Homo sapiens: one gene and its partners. The protein of the gene in region 2 purifies or fractionates together with the protein of the main gene of each other region. This does not show direct contact. Each region holds a gene or a part of one and is shown on either strand. Other genes may lie near its edges. The genes, in order: MIB1, TMCC3 and PPP3R1.

The links.
Region 1: the proteins of TMCC3 (region 2) and MIB1 purify together in Homo sapiens (affinity purification with mass spectrometry; one large-scale study listed by BioGRID and IntAct). This does not show direct contact.
Region 3: the proteins of TMCC3 (region 2) and PPP3R1 purify together in Homo sapiens (affinity purification with mass spectrometry; one large-scale study listed by BioGRID and IntAct). This does not show direct contact.

What each region holds. Positions count from the first base shown.
Region 1 is NC_000018.10:21,841,715-21,845,370, forward strand, and holds part of MIB1 (E3 ubiquitin-protein ligase MIB1), read left to right. Parts: intron 1-1,416; coding exon 1,417-1,503; intron 1,504-2,377; coding exon 2,378-2,539; intron 2,540-3,656. UniProt on the Homo sapiens protein: E3 ubiquitin-protein ligase that mediates ubiquitination of Delta receptors, which act as ligands of Notch proteins.
Region 2 is NC_000012.12:94,577,466-94,581,121, reverse strand, and holds part of TMCC3 (transmembrane and coiled-coil domain protein 3), read left to right. Parts: intron 1-2,592; coding exon 2,593-2,728; intron 2,729-3,656.
Region 3 is NC_000002.12:68,189,946-68,193,601, forward strand, and holds part of PPP3R1 (calcineurin subunit B type 1), read right to left. Parts: intron 1-3,656. UniProt on the Homo sapiens protein: Regulatory subunit of calcineurin, a calcium-dependent, calmodulin stimulated protein phosphatase. Confers calcium sensitivity.

The DNA of each region.
Region 1 (3,656 bases), on a different chromosome or scaffold from region 2:
TCTAGGTATGTACCCAAGAGAACATAGGACACCTTTCCAAGCAAATACTTGTACTAAATGTTTGTAGCAGCTATTATTAGCCCCATACTGGAAGCGAAGCCAAATGTTCAGGTAGTGCTGGGATAAACAAATTGTGCAAATTGTGGTGCACCTATGCAATGAATACTACTTAGTGAAATGTCAATGATGGAAAAGCTCAGGAAACTTAAAGAAAAATCCCCATTGTGCACATTTATGTGAGAAATAGACATGATAAAGAATTAAGCTGACACTCGGAAGGCTAAGGCAGGAGTATTCCTTAAGCCCAGGAGTTTGAGGCTGCAGTGAGCTATGTGCCACTGCACTCCAGCCTGGGTGACAGAGTGAGACCCTATCTCAAAAAAAAAAAAAAAAAAAAAAAAAAAGAAGAAAAGAAGCTGAGATCAGGTACCTTCTGACCACACTTCAAAGAAACATAATAAAAACAAATGAGAAATTCCCATCTTGAAGAATATGACATAACATTACCAAAGTTTCAGCTCTGCATACCCCGCCAGTATCAAGAGTTGTAACCAGAGGGCATGCATGGTTCTAAGACCTAAACGAAATGATCGGTTTATCTTTTGAATCTTTAGCTCTTTTCTTGATCTCATTTTAAAAAATTTTTAAATTATGCTAGACATTTGCTAGGCATTTTCATATGTTATTTTACTTAATCTTCACATTAGCCCTGTGAAATAGGTTTTAACTGTCACCATTTTGGAGCTGAGGAAGTAGATGATGGAGTTTTGACCTAGGTCCCCTGACTCCCAAGTGCACTTATTTTGCTCCTCAGTCTCTTTCTTCATTAGGGTTCAGCTGTTCTCATACGGTTCTTCAGCTGCCCTAGGTTCTTGGGTAGGATTTTCTGCTTACTTTAATGCATAATTTTATGTACGAATTAAGCATTACCTTCTCACCTAAAGCAAACTTTCTTTTCACAGAGTGAGGAAGAGCTCAAATATGCAGCAAGGGGAAGTGAACTTATTAGGTCATTAAAGTAAATCTAAATCCAGTATGAAGACTCATTATTATAACTTTTCAGGAAATATTTAGAGTTCTAAGGAGTTGATTATCTCCATTGCTTTATAGTGGAGATTGAAAGAGATCTGTCTTTGAACTCTACTGTGCTTTGTCCTTTTTAACTGTTCTTGGGTGGAATTACCATAATAAAAATGATTTTTAAAACTTGCTGTTTTACTTCAGAAAGTTTGTTGCCCCATCCATTTTTTTCTACTTTAACAGCAACTGTTACCATATGAGAATAACATTGCAGCAGCTGAAGGAGAAAGTAGCCAGCAGTGTTCGGTGTTATTTATTCCTTATGAGTAGTTATAGTTTTCATGTTCTTTACTGTTGTCAAATTTTAACCATTTAACATTTGTTCTTCTCGTTCAGGGTAATGCAAACCTGGATATCCAGAATGTGAACCAACAAACTGCCCTACACCTTGCTGTTGAACGACAGCATACCCAGATTGTTAGGGTAAAGTATTGACATACATTTTAGCTTATAATTACATTTTAACCATACAGATTTTTAGAACTTCCTGAAAATTGAAATGATACAGTGTTACATGTCTCAAGCTGGCATAGTTAGATATAAGTAAATCTAAATATCTAAATACAATGTGATCTGCCAAGACAGATGAGACCATATGCTTGAGATTGGCTTCTATATATAGATGGTACTTTTCTAAAGCTCTTCAGTAAGTATCGTAGAAGGGATTAGGAAAATTGTTAAAGCACCATAAGCAAAGTTTTAATAAACTTATATTTACTGCTTAAGTAATCTATTGAAATATGTCAACTGTGCATTTTTATTTAGGGGGTTGTAGTTTAGCAAACACTGTTCGTATTTATTGTTATTTGAAATTCCTCTTGATATCCTCCATGGCTTTCTTCATGACCATACATTTGGAGAAAATTGACCAAAAGAGAATGGAATCAATAATAACAGTTCCTTGTTTGTTTACATAATAGAAGAATTTTGAACATTATGATTTGGTCCTGGTGGAAGTGCTTAAAATATCTCAAGTCATACATCTAAAGTTGAAAAGAGAAATAAAGTCCTAAATATCCCTCCGTTATCATCATCTTAGAGTAGATGAATTAAGCAACATATTGATTCTCATATATTTTTATTTTCTCTAATTCAATATATTTAAATAACCAGAACACGTGACTCTTTGTAAGGAGCCACAGGGTTGGAGAAGAGTAGAAGGCAAAAGCATAAAAATGATTAGCTTTAGTGGTAACTTCTTCAGTAGGTCCAGGGTGTTCTCACCATTACTTTAGATATGTTGAAGTTTCTTATGGATGTGGACACTTTGCCAAAATGAGACATCTTTCTCTTTTAGCTTTTGGTCCGTGCAGGTGCCAAGCTTGATATTCAGGATAAGGATGGGGATACTCCTTTGCATGAAGCTCTAAGGCATCACACTTTGTCTCAGCTACGTCAGCTCCAAGATATGCAAGATGTGGGGAAGGTGGATGCTGCCTGGGAGCCATCCAAAAACACGGTGAGTAAAGATCATCTTTCATTCAGTACCAGTGGAAGAATCTTTTCATGCAAGATCTTATATTTACTGGTAATCTAACCTGTATTGGATAAAATATTTTATCAGAGCTATGTACTTAGAAACTTAGTTTATGAACTTAGTACTAGTCAGTACTAACTTATTGCTCCACATTTTTACCAAAAGTTGTTCAGTTCTGTTGTTGTTGTTGTTGTTATGTGGAGTCCCACTCTGTCACCCAGGCTGGAGTGCTTGGCTCACTGCAACCACCTGGGTTTAAGCCATTCTCTTGCCTCAACCTCCCAAGTAGCTGGGATTATAGGCGCCTGCACCACACCTAGCTAATTTTTGTATTTTTAGTAGAGACGGAGTTTCACCATGTTGGTCAGGCTGGTCTCGAACTCCTGACCTCAGGTGATCCACCCGCCTCGGTCTCCCACAGTGCTGGGATTACAGGCCTGAGCCACTGCGCCCAGCCATTCAGTTCTTTTTTAACATCAGCCATTCAAATAGATACGTAGTGGTATCTTATTGTGGTTTAATTTGCATTTTCCTAATGACTATTGATATTGAGCATCTTTTCATTTGTCTGTCACCATATGTATTTTATGAAGTGTCTGCTCAAATCTTTTGTTCATTATTTTGTTAGGCTGTTTGTTTTCTTACTACTGAGTTTTGAGAGTTCTTTATGTAATCGGAATACAAGTTCTTTATATGTGAATGCACATATTTTCTCCCAGTTGGTAGGAGATTTGTCTTTTCATTCTTTTTTTTTTTTGAGATGGAGTCTCGCTCTGTCGCCCAGGCTGGAGTGCAGTGGCACAATCTTGGCTCACTGCAACCTCCGCCTCCTGGGTTCAAGTAATTCTCCTGCCTCAGCCTCCCAAGTAGCTGGGACTACAGGTGCATGCCACCACGCCCAGCTAATTTTTTGTATTGTTTTTAGTGGAGACGGGGTTTCACCTTAGCCAGGGTGGTCTTGATCTCCTGACCTCGTGATCTGCCTGCCTCAGCCTCCCAAAGTGCTGGGATTACAGGCATGAGCCACCACACCCAGCCCTTTTCATTCTTCTAATAGTGATTTGGAAGAGTCAAATTTTTTAATTTTGAGGAAGTCTAA
Region 2 (3,656 bases):
ATATGCAAATATTCCAAAATCTGAAAAAAATCAAAATCTGAAACACTTCTGGTCCCAAGCATTTCAGATAAGGGATACCCAATAATTTCCATCCTTCATGATTCTAAGTTTATAATTTGTGGCTTTTAGCTGACAATTAGAGAAGGATTTATGTGTGGGTCCTTAAATTATTGGATACAGGCAACAACTCACGTGCATCTTAAGATGCTGATTCAGTAGACTTCCGTTATAGTGTCATTATGCTAATTCAGAGATCTATATTTGATTTCCCTCCATAACAACTGTCAAGTACACACTTACTCATTACCCAACAAAGTTAATCTTATTTGGCACATCAATCTTGAAGTCCTTATGTAATGTTTGTTTGTTTGTTTGTTTGTTTGTTTGAGATGGAGTTTTCACTCTTTCTCCCAGGCTGGAGTGCAGTGGTGCGATCTTGGCTCACTGCAACCTCTGCCTTCTGGTTTCAAGCGATCCTCCTGCCTAAGCCTCCCGAGTAGCTGGGATTATACGCACCCACCACCACGCCCAGCTAATTTTTGTATTTTTAGTAGAGATGGGGTTTCACCATATTGGCCAGGCTGGTCTCAAACACCTGACCTCAGGTGATTCGCCCGCCTTGTCCTCCCAAAGTGCTGGGATTACAGACATGAACCACTGCACCCAGCCTATGTAATGTATTTTTTTATGTTCTGTAGTTTGCTCATTAAACTTTTTACTCTAAAGTAAAATAAAGAACTTTCCAAAGTCATCTTAAGATTAAAGTATACATTCAAAACCTTTGGCTTATATTAGGTAATTTTAAAGTAGATGTTTTGTAGGCTGGCTTTTAGGTGCTTATAACTTATTAACACAAAGTGTGTAAGCCCAAATATAAGGTCATTTTCCCCATTTTTTCCAATAAAGAGATACTTCAAAAGTTTTTTAGTCAAAGTTAATAATACATTAACTTCTAAAAAGGTAGATAAAATAGTAAAATGCCTATTACATACTATAACATTAAAAGTTTAAATTTAGTTTACTTATTGTTTTATAATTGATGTATGATTTTATGTCTGTATTAATTTAGAAATGTGGCCTTTTCAATTCTCCAATTTTATGAAACAAAAATCTTTCCATATGCATCTTTGGAATCTTTGTCACACAAGAATTATATTTTAAGTCACAGCTTTTCCAGAGTATGAACGTCAGTTCTATCGAAATAGTCTGGGATATAGCACTTTCTAGATGCACATTTTCTCCCAAGTTACAGATCCCTATTTATGTGAGTTCAGGACGGTTTCTGTTTGCATCTGTCCTGTGGTTACGTTTGTGACCCGCGTGTTACAGTCACCACCTGTATTACTGAAGAGACCTTTAAAGGCTTATTCACAGCAGTAGCAGCATTTGACATCTGAGAAGTCATGCCTGAGAATAAGCATTAAATCTGGATGAAGCTCTTTGGTCCTCTTTATAAAATGATTCTGTCAGGTGACCTATGTAAGCATCTGAAATTGGCGTTGATCAAAGTCATTCCAGTCTAATGAATGCATCTTCTCCAAACAGTACATCCTGTTTCAAAATACACAGTATAAGATTTTTTGTTTTGTTTTGTTTTGTTTGTTGTTGTTGTTTTGAGATGGAGTCTTGCTCTGTCGCCTAGGCTAGAGTGCAGTGGCGCGATCTGGGCTCACTGCAGCCTCCACCTTCTGGGTTCAAGCAATTCTCCCATCTCAGCCTCCCGAGTAGCTGGGATTATAGGCACGTGCCACCACACCCAGCTAATTTTTGTATTTTTAGTAGAGACGGGGTTTCACCATGTTGGCCAGACTGGTCTCGAACTCCTGACCCCAGGTGATCCACCTGCCTTGGCCTCCCAGAGTGTTAGGATTACAGGCGTGAGCCACTGCACCCAGCTAAGGTTTCAAATATGAGAAAAATAATCTTCAGTGAGAGGGGCAGGGCACAGGAATGAGAATCTTTGTACTTCTGTTCCTTTAGATTTGGACATTTTGAAACACTGCATGATGAACCATCTATAATTTGTAATAAGCTTAATTTTGTATTGTCAGTTAAGTTCCAAGAGCTGAAATCCATAATCAGTGCGTGTTTGCATGCTGGGAAATAGTAGAGTTGACCCCAGAGTAGAAGGTGATACTAAAAGCATGGTGCTTTCCCTGTGGGCTCTCTGGCCATGAACCCCAACAGCAGTGTCAGGGCAGAATAGGGAAAAGGCACCACAGACACCAGAGGTCCTGGCCCTCCTTTAGCAGGATCCCACAGAGCCCTGTCTCCTGCCTGGCCCTGGCAAGTGCATCAGCTGATGAGCTCTATCTTGAGGTCACTGCAGCTAGCTAAGGTGCTAGTCTGACCCGTGTGCACCTTCAGTGGCAAGGACAGAGAGTCAAGACCCCAGAGACTGGATCTTTCCAGAGCTGGGACTCAGTGTTATCCAAAAGCTCAATTCCCACAGCTAGCCTTACTCTTTTAGAAAAACAGCCCATCAGGGAATGAGAGCAAGCCAAAAGGTACTGGCGCAGGAAGATAAAAAGGACATCGTTCCACAATGTGCTGTGAAAGGTCACACTGGGAATCGGCTCCTCTCTTTTAAAGGTATGAGCGACTGGAGGACCAGCTGCATGACCTGACGGACCTGCATCAGCATGAGACAGCCAACCTGAAGCAGGAGCTGGCCAGCATTGAGGAGAAGGTGGCCTACCAGGCCTACGAGCGCTCGCGGGACATCCAGGTACCTTTCCCTTTGTGATTAGACACAGGCCTGGGCTCTTCCCGAGCCTTAATTCATTTAACAGTCTAAATGTTTATGCCTAAGTCCTAGAGGGTTTCTGGCACATGGCACAAAATGTTTTCTCTGCACAAACATTTTATCTGTACCACGTTAACCCCACTAGTTCATGTTATAGACATTACTAAGTAAAAAGACAATATTCTTTTTTTTTTCTTTTTCTTTTTCTTTTTTTTTTTTTTTTTTTTTTGAGGTGAGTCTCGCTCTGTGGCCCAGGCTGGAGTGCAGTGGGTGATCTCAGCTCACTGCGACCTCTGCCTCCCGAGTTCAAACGATTCTTCTGCCTCAGCCTCCTGAGTAGCTGGGGCTATAGGCACATGCCACCATGCCTGGCTAATTTTTTTGTATTTTTAGTAGAGACGGGGTTTCACCATGTTGGCCAGGCTGGTCTCAAACTCCTGACCTCAAGTGATCTGCCCACCTTAGCCTCCCAAAGTGCTGGGATTACAGGTGTGAGCCACCGTGCCTGGCTAAGAGACAATATTCTTTATACTTTATGCCTAAATCAATGAACAAGTATTTATTATCCACCTCAAGCCCATCACCACCAAAACTGTAAAATGTAAAAATAGGAGACAATCTCTGGCTTCAAGCAGCTCACTGCCTAGGTGGAGAGTGTGGGATAGCGCAACTGCCAAAGAACTCAAGACAGCACAAACATTGGCCAATTTACACGACACGGACTCTGTGAGCCACAGAAATTTAGCCATGTGGTGTCTAGCAAGCTGTGGACCATGGGAGCAGTCAGTCATGTAGTAGCAAAACATTTCCACGTTCAGTCCCACGTCTGTCATATCAGTTGTGTGGCCCTGAGTAAGACTTGAGCCTATTCACTCATCTGTAAAATAATAGCATTCACATGGCCAGGCGC
Region 3 (3,656 bases), on a different chromosome or scaffold from region 2:
ATGAGTATATATGTATTATGGCCCACAACACTAGAAAAGAGTACAAATACAAGCTGTTTTGACAGCTTAAATATATGGCATCCTCACTGTAAGAACTTAAAAATTAAAGCATATATTTTAAATATAAATTATATTAAAATAGAACTATATACTATCAAAGTAAAAACTACAGCTACAAGATGGTGTTCTAATATGAATTAGTTCACACGTAATTCGTAAAGAGGAAGGAGAGTAGTATTGTCAGTAATCATGGAAATTTCACTGGTTCACAGGGATTTTTCACAGTAAAGGATCAGGGCAAGTTTCTCTTAAAAAAAAAAAAAAAAAAAAAAAAAAAGGCCGGGTGCAGTGGCTCACGCCTGTAATCCTAGCACTTCAGGAGGCCAAGGCGGGTGGATCACCTGAGGTCAGGAGTTTCAGACCAGCCTGGCCAACGTGGTGAAACCTCGTCTCCACTAAAAATACAAAAATTAGCCGGGAGTGATGGCAGGGCGCCTGTAATCCCAGGTACTTGGGAGGCTGAGGCAGGAGAAGCGCCTGAACCTGGGAGGCGGAGGTTGCAGTGAGCTGAGATCGCGCCATTGAACTCTAGCCTGGGCGACAAAAGGGAAACTCCGTCTCAAAAAACAAACAAAAAAAACCCCTCAATATATGAAGACCTTAAGAAAACAATAGTGAAGAGGTGCTTTCCTTTAGAGAAAACAAGTTTAGGGGCTTTAAGAACCTCAAGTCTTTCTAAAATTGTTATGTTGTCTGGTGAAAACTAAGGACACAGATGAAGTTGTGAAGACAATTTCTTTTGTTTTTATGCTCCCCCTCACCCCCACAACTATTAATAAAGGTAGGCATACATTGGCTCACTACTGAATTTTAGAAAAGTAGTTTCTACTAAAGCAAATAACTTCAACCTGCACCATACCTTAAAAGAAGCACAAGTCCCCGTTTAAGGCTCATAAGTGATGGGCTATGGTGTTTCATTTGTACAGTTAATTTGTACTTGCATTTTTAAGATCATTACTGTTTATGTTAATACTCTGTTACAAACAAAGCTGCATAATTTGAATGGTCTACTCTATCCATATTTTTCCCAGATGTGATTTCATGGCATCTGAGGTTTTCTAGAACACATGTATCAGAAATGCTGTGATGAAAAATTTATGTAAATACTGCTGCAAACACCAAAATACACATACAGTCAGTCATGAGTCACTTAACGATGGGGTTACACTGAGAAACACATCATTAGATTTCATCATTGTATGAACATCAGAGTGTACTTACACAAACCTATGTGGGACAGCCTACTACACACCCAGGCTATATGGTCCAGCCTATTGCTCCTAGGCTACAAAATCTGTACAGCATCTTACTGTACTGAATACTGTAGGCAATTGTAACACAATGCTAAATATCTGTGTATCTGAACATATCTAAACATTCAAAAGGTACAGTAAAAGTATAGTATGAAAATTTTACTTAAATGGTACACCTGTATAGGGCATTTACCATGAAAGGAGCTTGTGGGACAGAAGCTGCTCTGGGTGAGCCAGTGAGTGACTGGTGAGTTAATGTAAGGGCCTAGGATATTACTGTAGACTTTATAAACTCTGTACACTTAGGCTACACTAATGATGCATTACTCAATGCAACTCGTTGTTAAGTGACACATGACTGTACATGTATTTTCAGCTCCATTATAATCTTACGGAACCACTGTGTATATGTGGTCAGCCACTGACCAAAAATTATTATGTAGCACATTAATGTATATAAATAATCTGATAAAAAAGATCATATAAGCACTTCATAAGCACATCAACTACACAAGCATTTTATCCCTCTATTAAAGAGTATTCCTTCTTTAATGGAATATGTGACATAACTGCAAACTGTTCAAATAAACCTTATTTCCCCATTTTCTATCTATAAAATGACACACCCTTACTCTTGAAAGAGAAAAAATATAATGAAAGTCCTACAAATGCTTTTCGCTTATTTATTTATATGTCTACTCCACCTCAGGGCAGAGTCCATGACTTTTTCATTGGTGCTCTGAGCATCACATATAACAGGTGCTTAATTATGGTTTTAATAATGTTTTAAGTATTAATAAGTATTTCAAATGTAAAACTTATTGATTAAAATTCCATCAGTATTTAAAACTACTAGCTAACCAGGTACCAATCAGCAAACCATTCAGAACAGTGTCTCAAAGTTCATAGATTTTGCTGAAGAGCTACCCTCTCCACGCTTGCCTTAATTTTTTACACATATACCAAGGATTAGTTAATTATTTTCTTCTTCCAATCTTGAGTTTTGCCTTAGTTTACAACCATAGACTAGGAAAGGTGACAGGGAATTTAAACATAACAGATCACAAAGGTGATCTATTGTGAGTAGATAAGAAAAGATAATGTCTCCACAAACTTTAAGTGGACAAATCAGGATCATTTCTTCTAGGCTGTATGATTAATGGGAAGAGGAAAAGCAGAAATGTAGTATGATAATATTTATGCAAACTATTTATTAGTCAATTTATTGAAGTGGGGACATTAATTATAGTTTAGAAAGTTGTTTATCAAGAAACTGAAATTTAGGCACTTAAAGGATTGTTTTAGCTACTCAGAAAACTCCTCCAATCAAGAAGATAGCATTTCAGTCTTAATAAATGAATAAAAAATATTAAGAATACTTGAAAATCATAATCATAAATCAAATAAATATATGTGGTTCAATCCATCTTCTTTACATTGCCAACAGTAATCTTTCTAAAAGGCAAATTCAGCCAAACGGCTAGCTCCTGTGCTTTACATTTTCTAGTGGCTTTCTAATACAAAAAGTCTAAAGTCCTCGGCAATACTTAGCCTCAAATTTAAATTTCCATCTTATCTCTTTCCCCATTTCCTTTTCTTTGGCTACAATGCTCTTGGCACATCTCTGCTAAAGTATAGATTTTATACCTCCATTTCCTTATAAACCTCCTGCTGGAATGGCCTTGCCTGAATTCTCCATTTATGAGACACCTATCAATTTTTCTCTGATAAAAGAAAGGGGTTACTAATGATTTATCTTATAGTTGTATCATTATCTCACTCCCTGGCAAAGGCCCTTAGAAGGAGTAGTTAAATTTTATTTACTTGTTTTAATATCTTGTGAAACATTATAAAGTAGTTGATATCTGCTCTGGATGAGTAGTCAAAACTTTCCTCAAAGGCAAAGCAATGTGCCAGTGATCACATTTTACCTTGACAATAAATGACTTCTTAAAAAGCCCCTTTAATATGACTAGGAGGGAACAAGCTCTATCTAATCTTTCCATTCATCATCATTCCCACATACCCCATGTAGCTAAAACTGATCTTGAGCTAAGAAGCCAGTGCAGCATGTATGGGGGCAGTTATCTTTTCTCCAACCACTCATTTATTTCCTCATCTCCCTCCCCTCCTTTCAGCTACGATTACGATGATGAGTAAGATGGACTAAATACTCAGTATTTACAATCTAGTCGAGGCTGAGCAACTAGAGGAATCCATACCTAAATATCCAGAATATTTTTAAATGGCCAGCTTGGAAAGCAAAGCCAGGAAAAAATTTTAAAGCCAAGATCTACGAAAGTCAGCTTTCAAGAACAAATGGTAAATATAGTTATTTTAGGT